Linked DNA regions of Homo sapiens. The protein of the gene in region 1 interacts with the protein of each later gene in a biochemical or structural test. Each region holds a gene or a part of one and is shown in the gene's direction. Other genes may lie near its edges.

The links. Proteins that work in one complex are often made in the same cells at the same time.
Region 2: of the proteins of USP1 (region 1) and PCNA, one has a biochemical effect on the other in vitro, tested with the Homo sapiens proteins (6 studies listed by BioGRID, with this or other methods).

Annotation. Positions count from the first base shown.
Region 1 is NC_000001.11:62,449,677-62,452,304, forward strand, and holds the end of USP1 (ubiquitin carboxyl-terminal hydrolase 1), read left to right. Parts: intron 1-569; coding exon 570-1,305; 3' UTR 1,306-2,128; downstream 2,129-2,628. UniProt on the Homo sapiens protein: Negative regulator of DNA damage repair which specifically deubiquitinates monoubiquitinated FANCD2. Also involved in PCNA-mediated translesion synthesis (TLS) by deubiquitinating monoubiquitinated PCNA.
Region 2 is NC_000020.11:5,114,362-5,117,111, reverse strand, and holds the end of PCNA (proliferating cell nuclear antigen), read left to right. Parts: intron 1-1,539; coding exon 1,540-1,663; intron 1,664-1,749; coding exon 1,750-1,829; 3' UTR 1,830-2,159; downstream 2,160-2,750. UniProt on the Homo sapiens protein: Auxiliary protein of DNA polymerase delta and epsilon, is involved in the control of eukaryotic DNA replication by increasing the polymerase's processibility during elongation of the leading strand.

The DNA of each region.
Region 1 (2,628 bases):
AGGCTGAGATGGATGGCTTGCACCCAGGAGTTCAAGACCAGCCTGGGCAACATGACAAAACCCTATCTCTACAAAAAATACACAAACTAGTTTGGCGTGGTGGCGGGCACTTGTGGTCCCAACTACTCAGGAGGCTGAGGAGGAGGAGCCTGAGGTGGGAGGATCACTTGAGTCCAGAAGGAGCCATGATTGCACCACTGCAGTCAGCCTGGGTGACAGACCCTGCCTTAAAAAAAAAAAAACCCAAAACGTAACATTTTTGGTTCCGGTTCAGTCTATTTAAAATACCATTTATTTTCTTAACTGCACAAAATTAGGAAAATAAAGGAAAAAATACAATTATTTCTTCCACAGAAATGCCTGAATATTAGCAGTTATTTATTTTTTTGTTTCTGCATATATTATAAATATTATTCAAAGTTGGGGTCTTGTTTTGATTCTGCTTTTCTGATATATGAACACTGGATATTAAGGGTTCATTCAGATTTTTACTTGGTTTCAGATTGGGGTATAACATTTTGAATTTAAAATAGAACTGCAGGAAACCTTTTCTTTTTTTCCTCCCAAAGGTTTGATTGTTATGGTGGTGGACTTTCCAAGATCAACACTCCTTTATTGACACCTCTTAAATTGTCACTAGAAGAATGGAGCACAAAGCCAACTAACGACAGCTATGGATTATTTGCGGTTGTGATGCATAGTGGCATTACAATTAGTAGTGGGCATTACACTGCTTCTGTTAAAGTCACTGACCTTAACAGTTTAGAACTAGATAAAGGAAATTTTGTGGTTGACCAAATGTGTGAAATAGGTAAGCCAGAACCATTGAATGAGGAGGAAGCAAGGGGTGTGGTTGAGAATTATAATGATGAAGAAGTGTCAATTAGAGTTGGTGGAAATACACAGCCAAGTAAAGTTTTGAACAAAAAAAATGTAGAAGCTATTGGACTTCTTGGAGGACAAAAGAGCAAAGCAGATTATGAGCTATACAACAAAGCCTCTAATCCTGATAAGGTTGCTAGTACAGCGTTTGCTGAAAATAGAAATTCTGAGACTAGTGATACTACTGGGACCCATGAATCTGATAGAAACAAGGAATCCAGTGACCAAACAGGCATTAATATTAGTGGATTTGAGAACAAAATTTCATACGTAGTGCAAAGCTTAAAGGAGTATGAGGGGAAGTGGTTGCTTTTTGATGATTCTGAAGTCAAAGTTACTGAAGAGAAGGACTTTCTGAATTCTCTTTCCCCTTCTACATCTCCTACTTCTACTCCTTACTTGCTATTTTATAAGAAATTATAGAGTGAGTGTATTTTCCTTGTGTATATATTAAACACACCCATACAAACATTGGTAAAGTTGATTACATCAAAGAATCTTTAGCTTATCTTTTGAAGCTACTGGATATTATTGGTCTCTCTAGGTTTTTATATAAATAGTGAAATTTGAATTACTGAAAACCATGTTAATTTTTAGAACTCATTTTCCTCAGTAGAGACTAGTGATGCATTAGCTTCTGGGAACAAACTTGTATCGGTTCTTAATTAAATTATCCAAAACGGAGGCATTTAAACACTTGGATTTACACCAGTCTTTTGTGTTTGCTTTTTAAAATAAAGTGCTCGTATTTGTATTCTCCATATTTTGGAGTAATTATCTACATGATGTTTATAGTTCCTGTGGTTTTTCACCCAAGAAGCAGAATCTCATTCAGTACATTTAGTTTTATAAGAGTCATGAAGCTAAATCCTTGGGCTATGTCAGAGGCACAAAGTCTAGAATGTGTGTATTCACAATGGTGTATGTACATTTTGTGCCTTGATTCACTTAGAAGTGTCTCAGAAAACCTGGACAGTTCGCTTCTACACAAGAATTTTATATGTATTTATGAAGATGATTCTGTACCCTAGTATATCTTTTTGGGCATGGACTAATTTGTATCTGTTTAACTCATATTCTGCACGATCTGTATATAGTACATCAAACTTAGAGGTGTGACCTTAAATTTAACTTTTTTTAAAAACTGGGAGGTCAATAAAATTTAAACTGCTTAACTATGTATATGAATATTTGAATTTTTTACTTGTATATTTTTATAAATACAGCTGAGTTTTCTTAAAGCGAATAAGTGTGTGTATATATATATGTATATATATGAGAGAATAAGCATGCATAATTACCTTTATTACTGAATACTTTCTGACAGTGCAGGAGTTTTTCAAAGAGGAGAAATTGTGCTTAGTCCAGCCAAGCTGTCATACTTAAAAGAGGTTTATAATGAAATCTGTTGCATCTAATTGTCCTTTAAAGTAGACATGATTTAATGGAATCCAAAACTGGAAAAGTTAAGATGATGCTTTGGGCACACATAAAAACTTGGTTAAAATTTCATTTTAAACTAGTATACTGAAGTGGTAAGTGATGAATGATTTCATGACTTGTTAATGGACATTCTTGGTACTAAGTTTTTCCTAGAAATGATTCTAAATATGTAAATGCTATTGGGGTAACACTTTAATACCCCATTTCAACAAGGAGTACCTTCTCAATTAAAAAAAAATCGCAGTAGGCTGGGCGCGGTGGCTCACGCCTGTAATCCCAGCACATTGGGAGGCTGAGGCTGGT
Region 2 (2,750 bases), on another chromosome or scaffold:
GTTAGGAGTAAAAGTCTACCTGTTTGGAGCACTTATGTAATCCTAATATTAGCTTACATGTTGTGGGTCCAATTGGTAGCCCATTTTAAAGGTGGAGAAGCAGGCTGAGCAACCTTAAGTGACAATTTAGCCAAAGTCACAGGCTGTAGGAATCAAAGGTTAAACAGGAAGGAGACTTCTCACTAAGGCTAGAAAGCAGACTCCATGCAACTTTGAGAGTACCTAGAGAGCCCTTGTTTAACCAAAATAGAAAGAACATGGCAAAACCCCATCTCTACTAAAAATATAAAAATTAGCCGGGTGTGGTGGCGCACACCTGTAATCCCAGCTACTTGGAATGCTGAGATGGGAGAATGACTTGAACCGAGGAGGCGGAGGTTGCAGTGAGCCCAGATCATGCCACTCCCCTCCAGCCTGGGTGACAGAGCAAGATTCCATCTTAAACAAACAAAAAAAACTCGCTAACCTGGGCATAAATTAAAACTTTGTAAATCAAGGACAAAGGTCCTAACCTCATAACCTTGTTAGGATTAAATACGGTAGCATTAAAGAGCTTAGCATATGCTGTGTGTGGCATATTATAAGCTTACAATAAATACTATATATTGCTCTCTTGTCCCTTGAATGGGTAGTCAACATTTAGTTTAAATAAAGGTAAAATTCAGTTGAAAGGTTTTTTTTTAAATTAATAAAGTCTAGGAGCTGATTCTTTATCTGTTTCCTGAATCACATTTCCACTCCTGCCAACCTCGTTTTTTTCTTTTTCTGTTTTTCTTTGTTTTTGAGACAGGGTCTTGCTCTGTCCACCCAGGCTGGAGTGCGGTGGTGCAGTCGGTTCACTACAGCCTCAAACTCCAGGGCTTAAGTGATCCTCCTGCCTCAGTTTCCCAAGTAGCCGGGACTACAGGTGTGTGCCAACACACCTAGCCTGGTTTCCCCTAATTTCATTTTCCCCCTTCCATTACAATCTATTTGTTGAAGAAATTAGATCATTTATTAAGTTTTCCAGAGTTTGGATTTTGCTGATTGCATTCCTGTGTATACATAAATTCCTCTACCCTGTGTGTCCTACAGACTGGTAGCTATAGCCCTGGAGCCTTGATATTCAGGGTGTTTTGTTTCGGGGGTGAGAGAGCAAGAATATAGGTGGTGGTGTGTGCCTCTAGTAGGAGGCACAGGGTGTCTGGATGTGTTTGCAATGTTAGCAGCTATAATAGTCATTGTCTAGATCCATTAAGTCATTAATTAGAGTTTGCAGAGCTGAAATTAATACGTTTTATTCACTTATTGGCTGCTTATTAGAAAAACTTCCATAAAGAAAAGCTTTCCCATATTATATAATTTGGTTATCTAAATTATAGCTATAGGAAAGACAAGCTAGATAATCGAGTCTTTTGCTTTATGTATCAGTCTTCAAAATTTTCATAGCTCCCTCCAAAGTGACCAATACAAGTGTTTGTGGGTTTTTATAAATATATAATGAGCTAATAGATTGCAACTTTCTTGATGTTTTTCAATGATGAATCTTTTGTTTTGTAGGTTACCATAGAGATGAATGAACCAGTTCAACTAACTTTTGCACTGAGGTACCTGAACTTCTTTACAAAAGCCACTCCACTCTCTTCAACGGTGACACTCAGTATGTCTGCAGATGTACCCCTTGGTAAGATAATAAATTTGAACCTTGTTTTGTAGGTAGTCATATGTGATACATACTCCTCAGTAATTAACCATCTTCCTGTCTTTCAGTTGTAGAGTATAAAATTGCGGATATGGGACACTTAAAATACTACTTGGCTCCCAAGATCGAGGATGAAGAAGGATCTTAGGCATTCTTAAAATTCAAGAAAATAAAACTAAGCTCTTTGAGAACTGCTTCTAAGATGCCAGCATATACTGAAGTCTTTTCTGTCACCAAATTTGTACCTCTAAGTACATATGTAGATATTGTTTTCTGTAAATAACCTATTTTTTTCTCTATTCTCTGCAATTTGTTTAAAGAATAAAGTCCAAAGTCAGATCTGGTCTAGTTAACCTAGAAGTATTTTTGTCTCTTAGAAATACTTGTGATTTTTATAATACAAAAGGGTCTTGACTCTAAATGCAGTTTTAAGAATTGTTTTTGAATTTAAATAAAGTTACTTGAATTTCAAACATCACAGGGCAGTGTCTTCATTTTGACCAGGACTGTTGGAAGTATCCTACTGAATTCCCAGCTACAGCTACCCTTTCGTTTAAATGGTTTTTCAGTTTAGAGCAGCCTGATGGAGATCAAAAGGATTTCAAATACAGTAGGTTACTAGATATTTTAGGGGATTCACTTGTCAAACTTGTTATTCCAATTTGAGCTCAAGGAACAAGTGAGAGAGTAGTACAAATCCTGTGTATTTCATTTTACTTGGCAAAAATTAATACTCTTCAGAAGCTTAATGTACCGAAAGTCGTGTGGGCTTTATAAGATGTTAATGGAGTGTTTCTTTTTAGCCTGGGGAATCTTACAAGAGTCTTGGATGTTTCAGTAGAGCTGTAATGGGGCCCAAGGAGTATGGTTGTACAAAATTTCTCTAGTATAAGTACACTTTGCAACTTCACTCAAAGGATGAAGATGTCTTAAATTCCACGGATGTTGGATCCAACCAAGAAAGTGAAAAAGCCCTGAAGTTGTGAAGAAAGACTTAAAAACATTCCCACTAATAGCTACAAGTTCACTGTGTGCTGTGTATTAAGAATTTTTTGCCAGGCACGGTGCC